5 separate regions of the Homo sapiens genome follow, and all the other regions are linked to region 1. The links come from fine-mapping of genetic effects on plasma protein levels. A gene starts in region 1. Each other region holds a variant in brackets. All regions are shown on one strand. Distances are from middle to middle.

The links. PIP is the posterior inclusion probability: the model's chance that the variant is causal. The UK Biobank Pharma Proteomics Project read protein levels with antibody pairs (Olink). The fine-mapping took linkage between variants from a reference panel, not from the people measured, so its PIPs are less certain.
Region 2: its variant is fine-mapped to the plasma level of the CNTN4 protein (UK Biobank, PIP above 0.99).
Region 3: its variant is fine-mapped to the plasma level of the CNTN4 protein (UK Biobank, PIP 0.99).
Region 4: its variant is fine-mapped to the plasma level of the CNTN4 protein (UK Biobank, PIP above 0.99).
Region 5: its variant is fine-mapped to the plasma level of the CNTN4 protein (UK Biobank, PIP above 0.99).

Annotation. Positions count from the first base shown.
Region 1 is chr3:2,096,411-2,101,516 of GRCh38, forward strand. It overlaps CNTN4 (contactin 4), which reads left to right and starts at 2,456. Exons shown (of 25, transcript NM_175607.3): 1 at 2,456-2,568; 2 at 4,148-4,229. LOC124909338 (a long non-coding RNA gene) reads right to left here and starts at 1,845. Exons shown (of 2, transcript XR_007095785.1): 1 at 1,737-1,845; 2 at 1,171-1,548.
Region 2 is chr3:2,811,151-2,816,256 of GRCh38, forward strand. All of the region lies in intron 6 of CNTN4 (contactin 4), which reads left to right. It overlaps LOC105376926 (a long non-coding RNA gene), which reads right to left. Exons shown (of 3, transcript XR_001740398.2): 3 at 1,784-1,840. Among named protein-coding and RNA genes, the nearest start is that of CNTN4-AS1, 250 kb to the right of the region's middle. The variant T/C (reference allele first, on the strand shown) is at 2,154.
Region 3 is chr3:2,306,044-2,311,149 of GRCh38, forward strand. The region is part of intron 2 of CNTN4 (contactin 4); the gene reads left to right. Among named protein-coding and RNA genes, the nearest start is that of CNTN4-AS2, 160 kb to the left of the region's middle. The variant T/C (reference allele first, on the strand shown) is at 2,066.
Region 4 is chr3:3,036,046-3,041,151 of GRCh38, forward strand. It overlaps CNTN4 (contactin 4), which reads left to right. Exons shown (of 25, transcript NM_175607.3): 18 at 1,134-1,283; 19 at 2,888-2,958; 20 at 3,992-4,226. It overlaps CNTN4-AS1 (CNTN4 antisense RNA 1), which reads right to left. Exons shown (of 4, transcript NR_046554.1): 3 at 5,000-5,106; 4 at 3,616-4,337. Among named protein-coding and RNA genes, the nearest start is that of CNTN4-AS1, 23 kb to the right of the region's middle. RefSeq lists enhancers at 2,068-3,267, 2,502-2,611. The variant G/C (reference allele first, on the strand shown) is at 2,882.
Region 5 is chr3:2,077,622-2,082,727 of GRCh38, forward strand. No RefSeq gene overlaps it. Among named protein-coding and RNA genes, the nearest start is that of CNTN4, 19 kb to the right of the region's middle. The variant T/C (reference allele first, on the strand shown) is at 2,550.

The DNA of each region.
Region 1 (5,106 bases):
GGCAGAGGTGGCAGCTGAGCATCGCTTCTTTGCTGCAGGATGGAAAAAAGGGACTGGATTATTGGCTGCATTTTAAACTAGCTGCTGTTCTAGAGAAAATGTTGGGGAGGGACTGAACAAGCTTAGCACTGGATCAGTGTGGGGGTGTGTTGGTGAAAAGAAAAAATGCCTCCTCCTAACTTAACGTTTAACTGATATCCCCTCAACACGACCCAAATCTGTCTCTCCAGATACACAATGTCTGTTTTCCTAACTACATGGTGAACTGTGGAGCAAGTCTTGGTCATGTTTAGTTTGTTTCCCAGAATCTACTAGAAGACAATGCCTAGCATATAGCAGGCACAGAATAAGGGCCAAAGGGGAGAATGGAAACAAAATATGTACATTTGAAATTTAGAAACACAGTTAAGGGACTTTGCCTGAAATTGTCATAAAACTTTGAAAATTGCTTCAATGTATAGTCCCAGTGGGAGAATGTGACAGCATATTTTATTCTTTGTTCTTTTCTGAAATTCTGTGTCCAGTCTAAAACACGACATTTCCCTTTAATGTGTTAGGAGTATGCATGACTACACAGGAATATTTTCTGGAGAACTTCTGGTGAAGCATATTTTGATAAACAGTCTTACTAAAAGTTATATATATGTACTTTTAATTGACTAGTTGCAGAGAAATAATCAATGTAAAAAAAAATCATACATAGTACAGGTAGTAAAAGTCACAGTTCCGGCAGAAGCACAAAAGCCTTCAAAGTGAGTGGGAACCTGGGAACCATTGATCCTCAGTGGCTGTTTACCATGGAAAACACCTGCATCACCAACATTCCAGTTTTGCAAAAGTACCTCTATTACAGACACATACCAGGCAAGGAGGGAGGAAAAAGCCTGAAAATTTCTCTCCAAGTTTAAGTAATCAGGAAACTTTGGTGGGGAGGTTGGGGTGGGGTGGGGGCGGGGGGGTAACTTCTTTATTTAGCATTAATCTCAGCAATCATGAAAGTCATGGAATTTCAAGTGATGAAAAATTTGACCACAACAATACCTATCACTAGCCTGGTTTTGCCCACTTCTCGAACAGGAATTATAAAGATAATAATTAATTCTAAAAAGCAGAAGACAAAACAAACAAACCAAACCAACACTGAATGAACTAATAAGGCTGCTGCATATATATGTTGGAGTTGGATGTTTATTTGCTTACTGCAGTAGTTTAAAAATAGTTTTCCAGTTAACATCTTTTCCACATAGTGGAGATGTCAGGGTAGGTTTACATGATTGCGTAAATGGTCAGAAGTTGTTTATGTAGCTCTGAACTGCTGAGAGATGAGCAGGAAGACCTGGGTTCAGCAAAACCCTTGGGGCTTTTTCCCAGAGAGAGAAACAGAGGCTCCTCTCTGGGTTGCTGGAATGCTTTCCAGACGAATTCGACTGGGTTGGCTTTTCTCTGCCTGTCAAAGTCACTTTGCACAGTGCTGGTGAGGGGCTGGGGCATTGCTGCCAATCTCTACGGTTACCCCGAGGTGTGGAGTTGCGGCGAAGGGAGCCACTTCTGCAAGGAAACAGTAGATTCATAATGTAGAATGACCGTGGCAACGTCGTTCAAAGCACATTCTTTCGAATAACAAGGCTTTCGACATGCCCCACCCCCGCGCACAACACACCACAAATTGATCCTTGTACCTAATTTACAGCAACTGTTCCCTCTGACCTCCCCCCGCCCCCGCCCCACATTCCAACCTGAAAGCACTTTGCGTGGATGAGACTTCAGGTGTGTAACGCAGCCTGTCCAGCCAGTGTCCTCCGCCTAAGGACAGGCAGGTAAAAACCTACCAAAGCCCCCTCTTCTGGCCTAAGTTCAATGCCACCCGCCCACCCACATTCCCCGGTTCAGCAATTTTCAGCCCAGACGCAGAAGCATCTGTTTCCCTGGCCAGGGCGCCTTAACGATCCCCCGAATTCCGCGTCTCCCGGAGGCCAGAGGTTTGGGTACCCAGGAAGGTCGCGCCTCCTCGTGCCCCGATACTCGGGTTGTAAAGGGAGGAGACATCGCCTCGGCGCATCCCTGGCCGCTGAACAACGCAACCCCTACGTCCCCGCACGGGAATCCGGCTGATAATCTCCTCTTGCCTGAGAATCGGGCCAGGCGCCCTTTACTAATTTCGCGCGCTGGGGACCTGGGGCTGCCGCCTCTCGGCCGCGCGGGGCAGGTGCTGCGTCCCCAGCGCTCGCCTCCTCCGGCCGCGCACTGAGCATGCGCGGGCTCCGGGCCTCCGGCGCGTCTCCCCGTCCCCGCTCGTCTCCCGCCCGTTCCCACCCGCCCGCGCCTCTCCCCTTCCCCGAGCGTCTCCCCCGCCCCGCGGCTAAGGAGCCGGCAGCCCGAACTCCGGCGCGCCAGGTTTTTCCAGCCGCCGCGAGCGCCGGGAGGGAGGGCAGCGCCGCGCCAGACGGAGCCCGGGGTTCGACGCCAGGATTGGCTGCAAGTAGGGAGCTTTCGCCGCCGCCCCGGGCCCCTCGGACTGTGCCGGCGCCGCACCCGAGGCTCTCGCCAGCCCGGCGCCCCGGTGCTGAGGTAAGTGAGGCGGCAGCTGTGCGGGTCCGGCTCCTGCGTGGGCGCGCGATGCCCCGGGGACGCGGTCGCGGGTGTGGGGGGGAAAGGGCAGGGTCCGCGCGGGTTGCCCGAAGGACAGGGGCGCTTCCCGGGGCTCTGACTCCCGCGGGGCCGGGCAGCGTCTGCGGGGCCGTCCAGCTCAGAGCCCGGAAGCCCTGCAGGGTCGGGGAGCGGGAGCTGAACGCCTGAGCGCGGAGGACTCAGGGCCCCGACGACGCCACCGTCACCCCACAGCGACCCTTCTTCTCCTTCTCAGCCGGAAAATAAGTTTGTTGCGCTGCGAGGCAGCCACAAAACAAGGAACCGAGAGCCCGGAATGCTGCGGGAAGCCTTCAAGTCAGCTCCTCCGACTGGTTCGGGCTACTGCCCCCTCTCCGTGCGCCCTGGCCTCTGGCGCCGGGTTCCCGGCGGGGCTTTTCTTCTGACAGCCCAGTCACAGCCCGCAGCAGAGGGACGCGAACCTGGGGAGTGGAGGGACCTGGGACTAAAGGAACAGGAGCCCGTAGCCGTGGTGGAAGGAGCCGCGTGGAGACGGAGGCTGATGTCTGTGGCGCCCGCTGGGTGCCGGGCTGGCTGCTGAGCGCTGAGGCTGCGGCGGCGAGCGACAGGCCAGGTGCCTGCTCTTAGGGAAGGTACCTGGCTTCCCCAGTCTCTGCCGCGGGAGCCTGTTGGGTGGCATTCGTTTCCAGCAACTTCTGGGGGGTTTCCAGTTTCTTTCGAGAGGCAAGACAACCGCCCCGTCCCCTCCCCGGGCCCAGACGGCGGCGAACTGTGCGCCGGGCGCCCCACAGACCCCAATCCACTCACTCTCCTTCTGGAACGCGGGGCTCAAAATCTTCGTGCATTTTCTCTCTTGTGCTTCGTGTATATGTTTTACTATTTATGAAGGGTGTGGAGGTGAGGGTAGGAGGACGTGGGCTCCTGAATCCCTCTGAACCAGCCAGAGAGTCGGCTGCATGGAAACATTTCGCAGCGAAGCTCCTGCGAGGAGGCGGCTTCGCGCGTCGGGAAGATCAGGCGGTTGCTTGCTGGCCAGGGTCTGCAGATTCGGTGCGAAGAAGCTGGCGGAGGTTGTGTAGGGCGAGTCAGTGTGACTGAGCACCCTGGGTGTGTGGTCTGCGTGGAGGAGAGTGGGCCGGATCTTGAGGTGTGTTGGAGGTTTATTTGTAAGAGGAGTTCCTGAAAGGAATGTCGTGGAACTTTTTCTAGTTTTCCTGCTGGAATCAACATAGGGGCGGGCACATGTTTGTCAGAATAACAGTGGCATTTAACTGCATGGGAAGCTCTTTCAATTTTCTGTAGTGGGAGCTGGATAGTTCAAGGAGTAACTCCACATAACTGAGTCGTTTGGATACCCACACAAGATAATTTGGAACGCGCTTGTATTTTTTTGTTTTTTGAGATTTCTGGTTTATGTCCTTTAGAGAGTGGGGTAGGAGCGTAAAGACTGTATAGGTTGCCTATGAGCAGGTCCATACAATAGCGTTCCCAAGTCTGCCTAATAGCAAGTTTGTTCTCTCTTTCTCTCTCTCTACCCAAGTGGGTGAAAAAGAACAGTGTGTCATGAAGACAGGCACCTGGAGGTGATTTGGGTGGCATTCATGAGAAAATTCACGTTACCCGTAAGTTTATTCTTGCTATTTTTATCTTGATTTCTTTAAAGATTTTGTGGGAATATCTGCAGTGGGTCGCAGGAGTAGGTAAGATTGCTAAGGATCAAAAACAAGTTTCATGAGAATATTATTTTTGCTACCTTATAAAATAGCTATTGATTTGTTTGTTGAAGCTGGTTTCAACTGCTCTGTCTTGTTGAGGAGAGATGATGCTGATAAACGTCATTATTTTTCCATCTGAACCCTGGGAGGTAGCTGGCAAGGATGGAAAAACTGACCTTTTCAATTAAAGACTAAGAGTCTAAGAGAAGTGACTTGGATAAGGGTGCATGTCAGAGCCACATGTAAGTTTCAACAGAGGTAGATTTTCCTATTTGCAGTTTTTTAAACAACACTTTTCAGTTTCTTTGAGTTGTAAAACTTTTCAAGTCAATTGGGAGTCAATGCAGTACCTTTTTCCATGGTCATTTCATATTGGCAGGTAATTAAGAGTGATTAGAGAACAAACCTTTCAAATGATGTTGGATTTTTTATCATTCACTTATTTTACCTACTTCTCTCTCCTTTTTGTTCAAAAGTAGGTCTTCTGATTTCTTTTCCGATCTAAGCACTAAATCTTTTGGCTGCAGTTTTTCTTCTGAAATGTATACAGGGCATCCGTTCCTTCAATTTAGGTCTTAAAAAAATAAAGCTGCTCAGCAGAAAATTCCCATGCATGGTACTGACTTTTCTACAAGTTTGTCTGATCATGATTTTAACTTGTTGTTTCTTCTTTGTTATATTTGAGGACAGACATAATATGCATTAGCTTCAATCTCTCTTATCTTAAAAATTAATATTTTGTAAAAACTTGCTTTTATATTATTTTAGTTGAATAAGTCTATTT
Region 2 (5,106 bases), 710 kb after region 1:
TGTAATCCCAGCACTTTGGGAGGCCGAGGCAGGCGTATCACTTGAAGTCAGGAGTTCGAGACCAGCCTGGCCAATGTGGGAAACCTGTCTCTACTAAAAATACAAAAATTAGCTGGGCATGGTGGCAGGTGCCTGTAATCTCAGCTACTCTGGAGGCTGAGGCAGGAGAATCACTTAAACCCAAGAGGCAGAGGTTGCAGTGAGCTGAGATCACACCACTGCACTCCAGCCTGGGCGATAGAGCAAGACTCAGTGTCAAAAAAAAAAAAAAAGTTTTGGTCCTTTACTTTATTTTTATTTTATTATTTATTTATTTATTTATTTATTTGAGGCAGAGTCTCGCTCTGTCGCCCAGGCTAGAGTGCAGTGGCCTGATCTCAGCTCACTGCAAGCTCCACCTCCTGGGTTCACGCCATTCTCCTGCCTCAGCGTCCCGAGTAGCTGGGACTACATATGTGCCCGACCTCCTAGTCCCTTACTTTCGACTGCCAACAAACTGGGGTAATTAATGTCAGGTTTTTGTTTTTGTTTTTAGACGGAGTCTTGCTCTGTCACCCAGGCTGTAGTGCAGTGGCGCGATCTCGGCTCACTGCAACCTCCGCCTCCCAGGTTCAAGCAATTCTCCTGCCTCTCAGCCTCCAGAGCAGCTGGGACTACAGCACATGTCACCATACCCAGCTAATTTTTGTATTTTTAGTAGAGACAGGGTTTCCCCGTGTTGGCCAGGCTGGTCTCGAACTCCTGACCTCAAGCAATCTGCCTGCCTTGGCCTCCCAAAGTGCGGCGATTACAGGCATGAGCCACTGTGCCCAGCCAAAAATCACATATATTTACATCCTTTAAAAAAGGTAAGGCCGTTATCCTCAGCAAATTGACAGAAAACGAAATACCACATGTCCTCACTTACAAGTCGGAGCTAAGATGAGAACACGTGGACACATAAAGGGGAACACCACACACTGGGGCCTGTTAGAGAGTGGAGGGCGGGAGGAGGGAGAGGATCAGGAAAAATAGCTAATGGGTACTAGGCTTAATACCTGGGTGATGAAATAATCTGTACAACAAACCCCCATGACACAAGTTTACCTGTAACAAACCTGCACATGTACCCCTAAACTTAAAAGTTTTAAAAAGGTAGACAAATATCAATTTTACTGTTGTATAGAAACAATATTTTTAAGTAACACAAGCATTCTCAGACCAGAAGATTATAGGAAGAATTTCTCATGAAGAATTATCTGAATCCAGGGTATAGTGCGTATATCTTAAATATAAGTGTTATAAAGAATACAGTTCATGCAATATAAAGGATAAGATATCTGATTCACTTCAGCATCAATCTTGACTTGAAAGCATAATTAGGACTAGCAGAAGAGGATATATTTTAAGTCTTATCAGGTTTGTTTTTTTTGTTTTGTTTTGTTTTTTTGTTTTTTTGCCACAGTAGTGTTGACTTGGCCACTCTAATGTTACTTTATCCGGTGGAAGTTCTCCCAGTGAGTCACTTTCTGTAAACTTTCCTTTGGATGCTCAAAAGTCATACTGATAGTGCTAACATTTATAGACTACTGACTTTGGACCAGGCAGCATCTTAAGTGCTTTACATGCATGATCTTAATCTTCAGAAAGTCCTATGAGACAGGAATTATTGTCCTGACATTAGAAGTGAGAATTGAAGTTCAAGGAGATTAACTAACTCACCTACATCATACAGGTAGAAAGTAAGAGTGCTAAGTTTGTACTCAGGTCCTTCTGACTCCAAAACCAGGGTGTTAAACCATCAGGCAGTTCTTCCTCTTGCTATATACTCTCTTACAGGGAAGTCCAGTCTTCCTTCTTCCTAAATGGAAAGAATGTCAAAAATACGACTTTGAAACTCAGGTTTTGTAAATTTCGATTTATTTTCACTACAAGTCTCTTCAATCCAGGAAACCATAAAGTGTGCATCCACACACACACACAGGGAGCAAATGGCAGAGAGTCAAGACATAACTTTAAATTTGCTGCATGATAGTGAGTTTTTAAAGTTACTCTCCAAAAATACTTCTTTTTATAAATGGTGCAGTCATCATTATGGAGATCATATTCATAACAAATGTATCACTTGACCATTTTTCCAAGTTGATGTTCATCTCCTTACTGATTGCGTCTTT[T/C]AAAAGGAAGCAATAACAAAGGGAACTGGTGCTGACAATTTCTTGTTCTAAGGCCAACCTGGGAGAATTAATAGAATCCAGGTCTACCCAAGTCAGGAAAAAAGTGAATTGGTATTTTTTTACTTGCATTAAATAATACATGTATTACATGCATGGTTACTGTATCATTTTTCCTTTTTTTCTTTTCTCCCTTCTCTCTGTGGATTCTTAACAAACTATGATGTGTGATATTATCTCATTAACCTTTCCTGGCCATTTTAAAACTAAACTTTTTATACCTTCCTCTGAGTCATCCCACCCTGTGAATAGCTTCAGCTCTTCCTGTCCATATGTGTAATGGCTAGTCCATTAATTATGACCTAAATAAATTACTCTTTCTTATTTACTGTTATTACTTCTCAAAAGAGATCTTGGACCCTCTTGATTTTATATCCTCTAGACTATAATCAGGTATTTATGGTAAGATACTTCTTCCCCAGCTCTAAATATTTAAAAATTTCCCAGACAAAAAATACGTGGACATTTTCCCCTTGCTCTCTAATTTACTCCATGGCCTGAATTCCAAATGTTTTCCTATATTAAGACTTTTTATTATTGATAGCATATTGCAGCTTTAAGGCTTTTGTACACGTCCACTCCTCCAGGAATGTAACTGCTAAATCACTTCCTCTCTGGTCTCAATGAGGTAACACATTCCAAATACTATAGCATGTTTTCTAATCTCATTTTAAAATGAAATTCAGGTATTACATTCCATAGGAGAATAAAGGACAGCTGTTTTCACAAATATGATATGAAAACACATCTGCCACACAATTGTACAATCCTTAGCACATGGCTGTTGGAAAAAGTTATGTAAAATGCTGACAAATGAAATCAACACCAAAAAGTAGAGGTATTTATTTTTTAAAAATCTACACATCACATGTCAATGAACCACATATAAAGCTTGAAAGACAGGCTATTTTGAGAAACAATGGTGCACGGATGTTAATTCCTTGTTTTACATACACATTATTTATTCAATACTATCTTTGGTGACCAATTGCTAAACGGAATACAAGCCAAGTGTAATTGTTTAGCTACCTTCCTAACAAGGCAGCAATCCTGCTTCTTAATAGAGTTGTTTCTGTTTATTTTCTCCTTGTTCAACTTCACACTTTGCACCTAACATTTACAATCTCCATGTTGAGTGCCCAACCACAAAGAAAAGCAGAGGAATAGAAGATTTGAAACCAAAGTACTTATACCAACCCATCACACTATGTGTTGAAATGTGGATTTCTTTCCATATTCACTGAGTGTAAATGTTATTTAAATGAACGTTTTTGTGTCCTGGCATGGCAAGTAACTGATTTGAAAGCTCTTTTTCACTGACTTTACGAAATCAGTGAAGATGCCACAGATTATGGTGCTTCAGAGCAGTAACTTTGGAGAGAGACAAAACATGAGTTTGTATCTTCTGGCCACTTCCTAGGCACGTGAAGAAGGTGCTGCACCTCCGTGAGCTTCAGCTGTGTCACCTATAAATTGGGAGTTTAAAGTGTAATGGAATTCAATGAGATCAAATAAGAAAAGTACTTGGCCACATGGTATGACTGCAATATAGTCTGCAAGTCAATTCTATTGTTGCTATTAGTGTGATGGCCACAGTGACAGAGCATTATCCATAATGTATATTCCGTCTCATAATGCCTGCTGCTACTGATCATTACCCAAGTACCAAGGCTTTGGAGATAAAATGACTCTGGATCCTCATCTCTCACCTTATACAAAAAGCAACTGAAAATGGATTAAGGACTTAAACCTAAGACCTGAAACTATAAACATTCTAGTAGATGACATTGGAAAACCCTTCTGGACATTGGCTTAGGCAAGGATTTCATGACCAAGAGAACCCAAAAGCAAATGCAATAAAAGCAAAGATAAATAGCTGGGACCTAATTAAACTAAAGAGCTTTTGCATGGCAAAAGGAACAGTCAGCAGAGTGAACGGACAACCCACAGAGTGGAAGAAACTCTTCGTCATCTATACATCTGACAAAGGACTAATATCCAGACTCTACAACGAACTCAAACAAATCAATAAGAAAAAAATCAAACAGTCCCATCAAAAAAGTGGACTAAGGACATGAATAGACAGTTCTCAAAAGAGGATATGCAAATAGCCAAAAAACATAGGAAAAATGCTCAACATCACTAATGATCAGGGAAATGCATATCAAAACCACAATGTGATACCGCCTTACACCTGCAAGAATGGCCATAATCAAAAAACAGTAGATGTTGGTGTAGATGCAGTAAACAGGGAACACTTCTACACCACTGGTGGGAATGCAAACTAGTACAGCCACTATGGAAAACAGTGTGGATATTCCTTAAAGAACTAAAAGTAGAACTACCATTTGATCCAGCAATCTCACTACTGAGTATCTACCCAGAGGAAAAGAAGTCATTGTTTAAAAAAGATACTTGCACATGCATGTTTATAGTGGCACAATTCACAATAGCAAAATCGTGGAACCAACACAAGTGCCCATCAATCAATAAGTGGCTAAAGAAACTATGGCATATATATATATATATATGATGGAATACTATGTAGCCATAAAAAGGATGAATAAACAGCATTTGCAGTGACGTGGATGAGATTGGAGACTATTATTCTAAGTGAAGTAACTCAGGAATGGAAAACCAAATATCGTATGTTCTCACTGATATGTGGGAGCTAAGCTATGAGGACGCAAAGGCATAAAAATGATACAATGAGGCCGGATACAGTGGCTCACACCTGTAATCCCGGCACTTTGGGAGGCCAAGGCAGGCAGATCATGAGGTCAGGAGATCGAGACCATCCTGGCTAACACGGTGAAACCCCGTCTCTACTAAAAATACAAAAAATTAGCCGGGCGTGGTGGCGGGCGCCTGTAGTCCCAGCTACTCGGGAGGCTGA
Region 3 (5,106 bases), 210 kb after region 1:
CTTTGGGGTTGTTTTTATTTTTTGTAATTATAAATAATGTTGCTTTGAATATTGTGTACAAGGTTTTGTGTGGAATATGCTTTTATTTTGCTTAGATGTCCTAGGAGTGGAATTGCTGGGTCATATGGTAAAGCTATGATGAACTTTTTGAAGAGTGATAAATGAAACTGTTTACCAAAGTGTTTGCATCATTTTACATTCTCAGCAACAATGCATGAGGGTTTTTATTTCTTCCCATTCTTGTCAGCTCTATATGTTGCTAGATTTGTGGTTGCTTGTTTTTTAACTATAGTCATCTAAGTGAATGGAAAGTGTTTCTCATTGTGGATTTGATTTGCATGTCTCTAATTGCTAATGATTTGAGCATCTTTCATGTACTTGTTGGACAGTTGTGTATCATCTTTGGATAAATGTCTGTTCAAATTTTTGTCTATTTTTTAACTGGGTCTTTTTTCAATATTTAATTATAAGAGTTCTTGATATATTCTGGATATATTTTGGCTATGTAGTCTAAGTCGTCAGACATTGTTTTTTTTCAGGATGTTTCAGTTACTTGGAGCGTCTTGAATTTCCATATGAATATAAGGACCATCTTTATAATTTCTGCAATACAACAACCTTAAACTTTTACAAGGATTACATAGAATCTGTAAATCAATTTGGAGGTATTGCAATCTTAACACTAGTAAATATTCCATTCCATGAACACGGGATGTCTTCCCATTTATTTAGGTCTTTTTAAAATTTCTTTCAATGATGTTGTCTAGTTTTCAGTGTACACATCTTTAATATACTGATTTTATTAAATTTGTTCCTAAGTATTTTATTATTTTTGATATTTTAAATGAAATTTTTTTATTTCATGTTTGAATTGCTCATTGCTAGTGTATAGAAATAAAACTTATATTTATATATTGAACTTGTATCCTAGAATTTTGCTTGAACTTGTTTATTAAATCTAAAATTTTCTGTGGATTCCATAGGATTTTCTATGTAGAAGAAATTGAGATAGTTTTGTTCATTCCTTCCAATCTAGGCACATTTTATTTTATTTTATTTTTCCTAATTGTCCTAGTTAGGACCTCCACTACAATTGAATTGAAATAGCAAGGCCGGGCGCAGTGGCTCACGCCTGTAATCCCAGCACTTTGGGAGGCTGAGGCGGGCAGACCACAAGGTCAGGAGATGAAGACCATCCTGGCTAACACGGTGAAACCCCGTCTCTACTAAAAATACAAAAATGTAGCCGGGCGTGGTGGCGGGCGCCTGTAGTCCCAGCTACTGGGGAGGCTGGGGCAGGAGAATGGCGTGAACCCGGGAGGCGGAGCTTGCAGTGGGCCGAGATTGTGCCACTGCACTCTAGCCTGGGCGACAGAGCAAGACTCCATCTCAAAAAAAAAAAAAAAAATAGCAAGACAACCATTCTTGTCTTCTTTTTGATCTCACGGGAAAAGCTTTCATCTTTTACTGATAAGTATGATGTTAGCTGTGAGATGCCCATTTCTGCAGGTGCCCTTTTTTAGGTTTAGGATCTTCCTTCCAAGGATTTTCCTTTCTAGTTCCTTGAGTGTTTTTTTATCATGGAAGAGTGTTGCATTTTTTAAATACTTTTTATGCATGTATCAAATGATCATGTGGCTTTTGTTCTTTATTGTATTAATATGGTGTGCTACATTGATTGATTTTTATATGTTGAATTAATCTTGCTTTACTTGAATAATCTGGTCTATATCATTGCTTTACTTGAATAATCTGTTGTGGTCATAATTCTTTTTATCTGTTGCTAGATTTGGTTTCTTGAAAATTTTTGTGTCTATCTTCATAAGGAGTATTAATTTGTAGCTTTCTTATGATGTTCTTGTCTGGTTTGGGTATCATGGTAATAATGGGCTTATGTAATGAGCCTGGAAGTGTTTCTTTGTCTTCTAGTTTTTGAAGAATTTCAATAAACATTTTGTGGAATGTACCGGTGAAGCCTTCTGCTCATGGACTTTTTTATGAGAAGTTTCTTGATTACTAATTTATTTACTTTCCTTGACACAGGGTTATTCAGATTTTCTGTTTC[T/C]TCTTGAATAAATTTCAGTAGTTTTTGTCTTTCTAGGAATTTTTCTATTTTTGTCTAAATTATCTAATTTGTTGATAACGTAGTGGTTTATAGTAATTGCCTTATAATCCTTTTTATTAAAATATCTGTAAATTCTGTTGTTATCCCCCCTTTTATTCTCAATTTTAGGATTTTGAATTTTCTCAATTGTTTTGTCAGTCTAGCTAAAGTTGTGTCAATTTTATTTACATTTTCTAAGACCCAATTTTTGTTCCATTGATTTTTTTCTGTTGTTTTTTGTTTGCAATTCCCTTTATATTTTACTCCAGTCTTTATTATTTTCTCCCTTCTGTTGCTCTTCTTTTCCAGGGTTTCAAGGTGGAAAGTTAAGTTATTGATTTTAAATTTTTATTCTTTTTAAATATACGCATTCAAAGCTTTACATTTTCTTTGAAGCACAGCTTTAGCTTCATCTTTTAAGTTTTGGCATATTCTGTTATCATTTTCATGCATCTCAAAGTCTGAAAGTAATTTCCCTTTTGATTTTTTTCTTGACCCCTTGGTTATTTATGGATAAGTTATTTATTTTCCACATATTTACAAATTTCCCAAATTTGCTTTTAGTTTTGATTGCTAATTTAATTTTATTGTGGTCAGAGAACGTTTTATGATTTTATTCCTTTTAAACTCATTGAAGTTTGTTGTATCATTTTTTATATTATTTATAAAACCGTTAATATTTCAATATCTCTAAAATGTAGGAAAAATGTATATAAAATATAGTCTGTAGATCTTTTACAGTCTAAGTTGAAAAATGTTTTCAATGCACTTAAGAAGAATGTGTATTCTACTGTTTGGAGTGGAGTGTTCTATACCTGTTTGCTGGTCTAGTTTGTTTATGGTGTTAAATCTTCTGGATCCTTTTTGATCTTCTGTCTGATTTTCTTTCCACTATTTAAAGAAGGATTTTGAAGCTTTTCAACTATTATTGTTGAATTTTCTATTTCTTCTTTCATTTCTATCAGTTTCCCTTCCTCTATTTTGAGTCTTTGTTTTTTAGGTGCGTGTAAGTTTATAGGTATTATTTTTTACTGGCAGATTGACCCTTTTCTCATTATAAAATCTGTTCATCTGTACTAAAATTTTTGGCTTAAAGTATTGAAGTGTGATATTAGTAATGCTGTTCCAGCTCTTTTTTTGGTTACTGTTTGCATATGTCCTTTTCTGTCTTTTAACTTTCAGCCTGTTTTTGTCTTTGAACCTAAAATATTTCAGTTGTAGACAATATATAGTTAGATCATGTGTTTTTTAAAAGCCAGTGTATAAATATCTACCTTTTAATTACAGCGCTTAATATATTTATATTTGCTATAATTACAAAGTAATATTGATGCCTGTGTTTCCTACTTGTTTTTTATATGACTTATTTCTTTTTGTTTGCGACTCTTGTTTCTTCCCCATTTCCATCAACATCCCTGCAGTCCAGGCCTTCACATGGCAGGGAAATGACAGATGTATTATACCCTGTTTAGGTAATTGTTGCCATTTCAGAATGGAGTCCCAGTGATGCTTGGTCTTTTAATATATGAGTGGAAATCAGAATTTTTAAGTTTTTGGAACACTTCAATATTTTAATGTTGACAACTAATAGAGTTTTTAAAAAATACATTAGACATAGTTTGTGGAACAAGCAAGTTATGTCTAATGAGCACATGGAATCAAAGAGAAACCATTTGCCACCTCTGTTTTCCACATGTGGAAAGTCTCAGGACCAGCTCAATTCTGGCATGCTTGCTTTCATATATGTTGTTTACTGATACTTACATAAATATTTCCTATCTGTAAAATAGTGGGAAATAGAAATAGTAAAAGCTTACTTGTATTAAATACTTTATGGTATGCTGGTGATGTTTATGTCCCTACCTCTTTTTATATCAACTTATTTTAGTTTTCAGGTGGAATATGTTCAAATTTTATCAGACTCCAATCAAATACTGCAGTAGTTTCTAAGTCTTAGAGCTGTTGGTACCAGATGGATGGATGGATGAATTTGTGTTCTCATGATTGAGACATTACGATAAGGGGAAAGAGTATTACAGCAACAGACAAATGACTTGGCTTTAGCCCTCAACTAATTTATTGGGTGCTTTTCAAGTTTCCTACTCTTATAAACTTCAGTTTTCTCTTCTATAAAATGAAAAGATTAGCCTTGATCATTTTTAAAGTCCCCCAGGCTAACATTGGCTATGACTGACACTGTGGAGCTATGGGATCTGCATGAGAAATTTTTCTCAGTCAGTACAGCATGCACAAGGGAGAATGGCTTTATTTTATGTCACAATGCAGAATGTCTGTTGTTTGCTATCCCTAAAAGTGATGTCCTCTATGATTTACAAAGCCTATGGAGACATTTGCAGCATAAGGGACCGCCTTCCCACTTTTTCACCTCAGCACATGCTACCTCATCACACTTTCTCCTTATTTTTAGTTTTATGCCATCATCTGCAGGTAATGTTTGACCTAAAACCTACACCATTACTTGTTCCCTTTTAAAAATGGCTTCACTTGTACCCCAATGGCATATCGAGCACCTGTGAGACTTCAGGTGTTGTTTGATAGTTTAACTAAAATTACCATGATTATCTGTGTATATGAAAGGCTTTTAACCCTCCACTACCTAAAACTCACTCGTTCTGTGCTCTCACTTGTTTTCTATTATAATACAGAAATAAAAGGATTGCATTTGAATACTGAAAAATTGTCTTACTGCCAGTGCTTGAGTGCACAAATCCGGTTAACTCTCAAATGATAGCTATTCAACCTGTCTTTCAAAGCAGTAGATGTGTTTTGAAAATTTCACATTTGATTTATAAACAAAAAGACTCCCTTGACTTTATCCTCCTGTTTTCCAGACTTTTTTATTTTTTAAGAATGAAAAATAACAGCTAAGGAATGTGGCCTGGAATGAAAATATCCGAATCAGAAGCAAACAGAATAAAAACACACCTACCTTTCCCCCTGAAATAACATTAATGTCTTATTGGATCTGACAAAATTCAATG
Region 4 (5,106 bases), 940 kb after region 1:
ATTCTTATACCAACCCCACTCTGTCAGTACCTCCAAATTGACTCATTTTCTTATTTAGATTTCATTTAAGGATAAATTGGATGAACAAGTAGTTATTACAAACAAAGATACACACTCCTCTAGACAGCAAAAGTAGGCTATATGGCCTTGATGTTTTGAAGGAGAATATGCCCAGTGTTGAGCAATTCATATAAATCTTGTTGATTTTAACCCATTTGTTTTTTTCACTTTAGTTTACTAATCCTTAGAAATGGGTTTCTGTGTTTCCTTCTGTAATCACTGAGTCACAGGTGTGCTTTAAGAAGGAAATATGAGAAAAATATAGAAGTTAGGAGATGAATTCTAGACCTGACTGCTAATCAGCTGATCTCTATACATCTTCATTTTCCTCTTCTGTTAAATGGGCACAATAAGAATTGTTTAAGAATGAATATAGGCCAGGCGCAGTGGCTCACAACTGTCATCCCAGCACTTTGATAGGCCAAGGCGGGTGGATCGCTTGAGCCCAGGAGTTTGAGAGCAGTCTGGGAAATGAGGCGAAATCCCGTCTCTACTAAAAATACAAAAAAAAAATAGACAGGCATAGTGGCATGCACCTGTAGTCCCTGCTACTCAGGAGGCTGAGGCACAAGAATTGCATGAGTCTGGGAGGTGGAGGTTGCAGTGAGCCGAGATTGTGCCACTGCACTCTACCCTGGGCATCAGAGAGAGAGAGAGAGAGACCCTGTCTCAAAAAAAGAAAAAAAAAAAGAAAAGAAAAAAAGAATATAATACTTTTACCTTTCTCAGAGGATAGTTGAAATAGTGTGTCTGGCACTATACAATAAATGCGGAAACACATGTGAAGGGGTGATAGTAATGATTGAGTCAGGTAGTTTGGGGTCTTGTGGACTGTGTGTCTTTTATGATGTCATCTGCTGGTATCTGATTAGAGTGTGTTAGTTTAACATACAGAGATAGTTCTGAGATTACCTCACTGAAACAACTGTTGATGCAGCTAATATCAGAACACCTACACTGCCCTGAATACAATAATGATGAGGATGGATGGATGTTCCTATCTTCCTAACGTAATCTCTGCATTTGTTTTCTGAGAACCTATGAAACAGCCCCCACCTTTTGTTGTCTTTCAGTCCCAGAACTCATTGATGGGAAGACATTCACAGCGACCGTGGTGGGTTTGAACCCTTGGGTTGAATATGAATTCCGCACAGTTGCAGCCAACGTGATTGGGATTGGGGAGCCCAGCCGCCCCTCAGAGAAACGGAGAACAGAAGAAGCTCGTGAGTAGCACCCGAGATTCAGATCATCTGTTCTGCCAGCTGCTGTTCCTTAGGAAAAGCGTTTGAATTCTTGCTGCTCTTCAGCGCTCATGCGGCTCTGTGTTAGCTCACCCTTCCCTTTAAATGTTTATAATGATAGAAATCAGGCCAGGAGAAGCCCAGCTGAACACGCAACGGGTTTCAATCAAGAGTTGTTTTCTTCATTAGGTCCACTTGTACAGCAAGAGACACACGGTGCTTAGTCCTCTCAAAAGCCAGCCCTTTCTTCATTGGTTCATTTGTCACCAAGATTCTAACAGAATTTCAAAAAAAAATCCCACATTTCAAATAAAATTATCTCACATAAGTAACTAATGGCAAAGAATAATTTGTGACTGCTCTGGACACAGCCACCATGGGGTAATCCTGTTTAGAATAGAAATAAAAAATAATTTCTTCAGAAATGTTCACTTAGATTATCTTTCTTAGGGTATAAACCATTCCCAGAAACGAAGATTCAGAACATCGTGCTCATTCGAACAAGACCAGTCAGCAATTCAGTATGGCCCTCTGCATATGCAGCTTGAATGAGCACGGGGAGAGAAGAACAAGTTCATCAGGGTCAGCCGTACTTTTACTTAGCTGGTGTAAAGCAAGAGGCCTACATGTGCCGTCTTTTATAGAGTTCCCGCCTGTAGAGAGGCCAGTGTGTTGAAGGAATAATAAGGTCCCTACACAAATAGGAGTTCTGACCCTACTCTCAGAAAAGCAAAAACTCATCTAGATCTATTTGATTGGCTTTAACCAAGGAGACATACCCAGTCACCAGCCACATACCCCAGTGAGACCTTTTTAAATGTGGCCCGGAGCCTTTCAGTTACGTGATGACAATATAGCTAGTCCCCTGCTTTCTTTTCCCCTTCCAAAACCATAATTGAATTAATTCCCCTCAGCAATCCTGAGGTGGAAGCTCGCATAATTTCCTCTCTTTTATAGAGAAAACTGGTGATCAAAGAGGTTAAGCTCAGTGAGCCGGGGGTCAACTTCTGTCTGCCACTTCCTTCAACACTCAGATCAAAACTCTTCCTCCCAGAAGCCATTCGCCCACCCCAGCTCTGAGCAGGGCGCTACTCCGGAACGCCCCCCGCTTCTCCATGCTGACTGTTCCTTACCCTGGTTGTCGACCTTGCTCTAACTGGTGCAGGCGCTCCTCCACTCCAACCAGCTTGTAAGCTCTGCCTGGGCAGAGCTTGTACTCTTCCCTTTGTGTATCTCCACGTGGCTCATAAACGCATAACCAAACATTAGGACCAGACTTCAGTCCTTTCCTCCCTTCGGGAACCCCTCGGCCTCTAGGGATGGAGCTGAACAATTGGTCAGACGTGTCAGATAACACGTGTGCCTTGTTGAATGGGAAACAGGTAATTAATAGCAGTCTCCTTGGTACATTTCACTTCCTCGAGCGGTCGCCGTGGGCCCCTTGACAATGCTGTTGCTGATCTCCAGAGACAAAGGGGCGTGCCTCAGAGTACTCACTGAAAGTGAGTCACCTCTGCCAGGCAACCTTCCTGGCCCTCATTCGCCTTTGCCGCCTGACATAACTTGTTTTTTGTCTCCTT[G/C]TGCAGTCCCCGAAGTCACACCAGCGAATGTCAGTGGTGGCGGAGGCAGCAAATCTGAACTGGTTATAACCTGGGAGGTAAATGAATCACAGAATAAAAGGAACGTACACGCATCGAAGCTATTTTATTATTTTCCTCCATGTTAGACATAGCTGGGAAGTTTCCTCCTCTGTTTTTAACAGTGAAAATTCATTTGGGTTCAGACACTCCCTCTCACGTAGCTAATGGCTAGCAGGAAGGACGGCACTTGCCCATCCATTGTTGAGGCAAGTTTTAATTCAATCCATCACAGTAAAAACAATTATGAAGGGAAGACAACACACGTTACAAAAAAAAATAAAGAAGGCTGTTTCAGAGAAAACTAGTTTTTCTTTTCTTCCTGAATTGCTGCATGGCCAATTGATTTAAAACGTCTGCCAGCAATAGATTCAGTGCACCAGCACAATTTCCTGGCAATTGGCTTTGCTTCTAGAAGGGGCCCTCTTTTAGGAGGTATTTTTTAAAACAACCTGGAGGAAAGTTAGTCACCAATTTATTAAAAATTGGCTTTGAGAGAAGAGGTGGGAGCTTTAGAAAGGGTTCTTCATGTTTTTGAAAGATTCTAAACAGCCCCAGAAATTAAAATCTCTCATTTACCCAAAGCACAGCAGTGAAAGAAATCACTCATCCCTCCAGCTGAACTCTTCCCTCTGAGAGGGAGGATCTTCAGCCAAGATGGTTTTTCTTCCTTCAGTGAGATCTTTTGTCTATTTGGCAATGGAAGAAGATTAGTATTAGAGGATACGTGTTGGAAATGTGGTTTTTCAGGAGACCGATGTCCAGTGTTTTTTTTTTTACAATCATTTCCAACCATTTCAGAGCTGGGTCTGCCCCATCAAAGAGCAAGCTCTGGACTGCAGATCCTCATTACGTTTTCAACCCTGTCCAGTACATCATAACTGTTTAAGATAGACTGACTGCAAGCCCTAAATTTAAAAGACTGTTAACAAAACGCCAAATAAGATGGGTGGAGAAGGATGTAGACAAGAATGTTACAAGGGAAACAAAAACGATTTTTGCATTTGAGTGAAACTACTGTGATTTCTGAAGACCACCTTCCTTCTTTCCCAGACGGTCCCTGAGGAATTACAGAATGGTCGAGGCTTTGGTTATGTGGTGGCCTTCCGGCCCTACGGTAAAATGATCTGGATGCTGACAGTGCTGGCCTCAGCTGATGCCTCTAGATACGTGTTCAGGAATGAGAGCGTGCACCCCTTCTCTCCCTTTGAGGTTAAAGTAGGTGTCTTCAACAACAAAGGAGAAGGCCCTTTCAGTCCCACCACGGTGGTGTATTCTGCAGAAGAAGGTATCGTTTATGCTGCCTAGATCATTGACTGTTAATATTTCTTCAATTCTAAAATGTGGATTGTAGCACGTACAATCAATTTCGCATGGTACATGTATCTTGAAGGCATACCTGATTTGAGAAGAGGATAATGTAAACAATTTGGTTCGCTGTCCACCATGAATCTCTTGAAAAGATAGCGACTGCTCTGTATATGAAAACACTTGGCTGTCCATTATTGATTCCATTGCTAAGGACCAGAATTGCAAATACCATATAAGATCTTCATATCTATCTATATGTTATCATTACTTTCAAAAGAATTTTATTTTTGCCTTTAAGTGAATATCAAAATATAATTTGCATTTTCTTACCACTTGTATTTTCATAAAGCATATGGTACTTGTGGCTCACACCTGTAATCCCAACACTTTTGGGAGGCCAAGGCGGGTGGATCACCTGAGGTTGGGAGTTCGGGACCAGCCTGACCAATATGGAGAAAACCCATCTCTACTAAAAATATAAAATTAGCCAGTTGTAGTGGCACATCCCTGTAATCCCAGCTACTCAGGAGGCTGAGACAGGAGAATCACTTGAACCCAGGAGGCGGAGGTTGCGGTGAGCCGAGATCGCACCACTGCACTCCAGCCTGGGCAACAAGAGCAAAACTCCATCTCAAAAAAAAAAAAAAATCTCACTTATTAAAGAAAAGAGTAAGTCATGAAGCAGTGTGATTGCGCTCACTGTCATCCACACCATCATTATGTTTAACATTTCTCACACATTATTATCACCTCCATGCTATCCCTGCTCTCGGGATGCCTCTCACACAGTCTTCGTTACCTTTGGAGTTCGTCTATGTTGTTTTAAAGATGATGCTCAGAATGGGACCATGTTAAAA
Region 5 (5,106 bases), 19 kb before region 1:
CGGAAAAAACAAATGAAAGAAAGAAAAACAGAGAATGTTTTAGACGCTTAATCTACTGGAGGAAGAGTATGAAATCCTCCAGTTCCCAAGACCCAAGCAAAGATTCACTACTTCAGGGGAAAGTGATAGTAGCAAAATCCACCTCCCCAGGGAAAGGGGCAAGAAACCTTCTCACACAGAGAATCTTGTCTGACTACAACAGGGCTACTAAGCAGGAACACTGAGAAAGCCCTAATCTGAGCCCTGGGCTCACAGGATCTGCCCAATAAGTGACTACTTGAGGATGATGATTGTATTAGTCCATTTTCACACTGCTATAAAGAAATATCATAGACTGGGTAATTTGTAAAGGAAAGAGGTTTAATTGACTCACAGTTCCACTTGGCTGGGGAGGCCTCGGGAGAGATAGAACCATGGTGGAAGGTGAAGGGAAGCAAGCACCTTCTTCACAAGGCGGCAGGAGAGAGAATAAAAGCGGGCACAGGAAAAAGTGACACTTTTAGAACCACCAGATCTCATGAGACTCACTCACTATCATGAGAACAGCAGTGGGGAAACTGCCCCATAATCCAATCACTTCCATCCCTCAACAAGTGGGGATTACAGCCCTTGACACGTGTGGGATTCCAATTTGAGATGAGATTTCGGTGGGGACACAGAGCCAAATGATATTTTATTTCCTTTCATCCATGGGCAAAGGTTTGTAAGATATTTTCAAGAAAATTTAGAGTGCTAATATAGTTTCAGTTTCACAAATCTTGAAACTGCTAGTTTTTCCCCCAAATTTGAAACTTTTTTTTGGTTTATGCAAGACATTTTGAACAAGTTTTAATAAGGCATTTAAACATCTCTTCCCTTTTCTAAAATACATGCCTCTTTAATAATTGGAAGGAAACCATTACTTTTTTAACACAATGTCGAGTTCAGAGCTAGATAATGAAGTTAAACAAGTATATTCTTCCTTTAAGTTTTCTAGGTAGATGGTGTCTTTAAATCTAAATTAAAATATCTTCGCATACTTTGAGGGCATAAGCTTTAGGAGTTTCTTATAATTGCTTACATTGACTTTTCCTAGGCTGTAAATTCAGTCTTGCCTTACAATTAAAATGATTTCAATTACATTTGTGGTTTACATTTAAAAACCTATGAAGTACATTTTTTTCCTTTATAAAAAGTATGCACTGGTTTTCTTTAAAAGCATTTCAAAATCTTGACCATAAAAGCAAATAGCTGATTTCTTTTTAACAAAAACATGAACAAGTTACATATTTTACATGCGAGGTAACATTGGGGTATTTATAACATCATTACCAAATTCTAGTTGGTCTAAATAAGTTTCCTAAAATAATCTCTAGTTTGGAACATACTGAAAAGAGGGAAGCAGCACAGTATAATAAAGTGCTTGACTGAAAGTCACCTGATCTGGCTTCTTTTTCTGAGTCTATCACTAACTAGCTGGGTGACCCTCTATGTCTCAGCTTTTCCTCTGTGCAGTTAAGAGTTTGGATTATGTTATCTCTCTGGTTTCTTTCATATCCGACATTCTTTATGCACGCTATTCAATTGCCTTATTCTATATTTAACCCCTTTTTGCTGTCTCTAGTGAAAGCATCCAGTTTTATAAGAAGAAGATTAAATTTGCATTAGAATTACCCAGAGATATTTATTAAACAACAGATTCCTGGGCCGCAGTCCTATAGCTACAATTTAGTAAGTATGAAGTAGGGCCCAGTTACATGAATTTTTAACCATCATGGCAGGTGATTCTGATTTGGTGCTTACAGGTACAAGAGCCTACAATATAAAATGCTTTGTATTTTAAGGGTAAGGGTAGGATGAGTAGGGTAGGACAGGTAGGGTATCCATCCCACCCCGTCCCCTTTCCACTGAAAGCCATTTTCATAGCTCAATACAATCCTTCTCTGCCCTCCTCACCCTTCAATGTCCCGCATATCCTCATTCTTTTGGGACGTGGTACAACAGCTTGAGAACCGCTGAACACAGGTACAAGCTATAACACAGGCAAGCTGGGGAATGCTATGGTGGCCGAGGCCCAGGTGGGGTGTCGCTGCTGGCCAAGGGTCCCCAGCTTGCAAAGTGACTGAGAAGAAATATCCTACATCATTTACAAGCATCAGAGAGTAACAAGGCAATAAAGAGCTCTATTTCTCTAAGGCCATTTCTGATTCTGGAAGAGGTGCTGAAAGACAGGGAAAATTATCAGTATTTTTAACAGCTTCATGGAGTAAGGGGAGTCTAGGACTTTTAAAATATAAAATGCTTTATATTTTAAAGTAAGTTCTATTATCCAGCCTAGAGAAATCTAAAGCCTATATTATATCAATAGACATGGAGAGAATTTGATTGACTTGGGATATATCTATGAAATCTACTAAACCAGACTTTCAATTTCATCAATATGTTGAACAAGGATAGAGGAATTTAGGGTGAAGATCATGTTCTTTGCTTGGGAAGATGGATGGACAGTAAAGCCTTTTACTCTGACAGCAACTAAGGAGTATGACCAAAAGGGGAATGAGTTAAGAGAA[T/C]AGTCCAGAAAATTGGCACATTTTAGACATTCTTGCCTATGACACATTCACACAGATTTGTTCTGAAGGCAAATGGACATATAAGTCCAGTTCTCAGGAAAAAGGTTTAGAATGAGGATAGAAATTTAACATTTATCCACATCCAGATGGTAATTAAGGTCCCCAAAAAGGATAAAATGTCCAAGAAAAAATAAGCTGTGAGAGAAGTTATTTTAGGGGATATAAATAACCCAAATATATTTAAGGTAGTCGATATCCATATTTAATGTGCATGAAAATCATCTGGGTGTTTCTGCAGTTTCCAAGGGCCTTATCAAAAGAAATTCATAGTTTCTTAAATTGGGCTGGATCCCGGAGTCTAATTTTTAACAAGCACTGCATGTGATTCTGATATAAGGGATCCTTAACCACAATCGGAGGGACACTGAAGTATAGGCTTAATAGCAGACATTTCTCGTTACAAAGATAGATGAATAAATAGATATGTTTGGACATAAATATATGTTTGTTGAATAGAATTTGCATTTGATCCAAAATAATTACTCTTGCATGTCACAGGCTAAATAAAAATAATAACCATCTATATTTATGAACTATAGTAGCTTTATCCTAAGCACTAGATTGAGAATTGAGAAAGAGAAAGCATCTTACATGCTTTGTCTCTACATTATTGCTCCCTAGTACTTTACTGAGTGCTTGGTACATAAATGCTTAATATATATTAATTGAGCTGAATTGTATGAATAAAATTATTGGTAGATTTTGCTTTTCTTTTCTTTTAAAATAAATACCTATAATAGCAAAAAAAAAGAGCATTATCGAATTAGAAAGCCTAATACTGTAAACATATCAATTTCCCTCAGTCTCTCATTCATTACATGTGTGAACACGGTTAAGTTTCCTAATCAGTAAAACAGGATAATAACAGAAACTGCTGAGACATCCATGCAGTTAAGGGCAGAGTAGGTAATTAACACCACCCATCTCCTTGACGACAAACTGAATAAAATCTTTTTAAAAATATGCTTGTGATAGAGGCAGGAGGCAGAGAAATTCTAGGCAGACAGGGGTGGGTCCTTGGTGAAACCCCACCTGCAAGACGAAGACAGTTTAAAGCCTGAAAGCCAAGCTACAAGTTACATCCTTGGACCCGACTGAGAACTTGTCTTTCTGTTTGGCATGCTTTCCCCTGACTGGTCTCCACCCTTCACCTATTTTACATATACCTACCCTTTGCTAATTGGTTTTTCTACACTGTCTTGCCCAGCTTTGAATGGTGTCTTCCCTTTAACCTTTTTTGCATACTCACAAACCAATCAGCACACACTCCCCATTCTGAGTCCATAAAAGGCCCCAGAACTAGTCACATGGGGAACTCTCTCACCTTCTGGTAGGGGATCAATCTCCTTGTGTCTCCTCTCCACTGAAAGCCATTTTCATTGCTCAAGTAAATGCTTCTCTGCCCTCCTCACTCTTCAATGTCCCGCATATTCTCATTCTTTTGGGGGATGGTACAAGAACTCGGGAACCACTAAACACAGTTATAAACTATAACACAGGTGAGCTGAGACACATCAGTGTGGCCGAGTGAGGTCCGGGCAGGGTATCACTGCCAGCTGGGGATTCTTGGCTTGCAAAGTGACCGAAAAGAAAAACCCTACATCATTTGCAGGCATTGGAGAGCTAACAAGACAATGAACAGCTTTAAGTAGGAAAGTCAGGAAGGTTAGAATGGACTTGGAGGCTGTTGTTTCTCAAGGCCATTTCTGATTCTGGTAGAGGTGCTGAAAGACAGGGAAAATTATCAGTGCTTTTAACAGTTTCATGGAGTAAGGGGAGTCTAGGACTTCTAAAAAGAGTAGGTTGGTAAACCCACCATTCTGTAGGTTAGGATCATGTCAGGCTACTCTTTAGGAAGAGTATGACCTGTAATCCTTACAACAGGATTAAGGTAAACTGAGATTGCTATTTCACCTGGCCACCTGTCAGAATCAACTATAAATGCTGTCTGGAAAAATGCCATATCATCCTAGGTCTCAAATCATTTCTACAACTTTTCAGACAAAATGTCTCACACTGAATCAAAAATAACCAGTCACATGAGGAAGAAAGACCACATGGAGCGTTAGAGAACAGACAATAGAAATAAGAACTGATTCATAAGGGTTCTGAATAAAGGAGCTATTAAAACCAGACTTTAAAATAATTAAGATTATTACACTCAAAAAAGATTAGGATCTTTGTTTTAGTATCAAATAGAATTGAAAGCACAAAAATTGGAGTTACACACTCTTTGTATATTAAGAAAGCAGAATTAGGCATAGCTGGAGAGAAAAATAGTAAACTAATATGTGAATCAGAAGAAATTATCCAGATTGAATATTAAGGAGCAAAAGAAAAAGGAAAGAGAAAAATATGAAGGAGATAGCCATAAACCTAGGAAATAAATTAAGAAGTTCTAACAGATAAGTCATTGGAGTTCAAAAGGAAACTATAGAATCAGGCAGGAGCAGTATCTGAAAATATAATGCATAGAAGTTTTACAAAATGTAAAAGA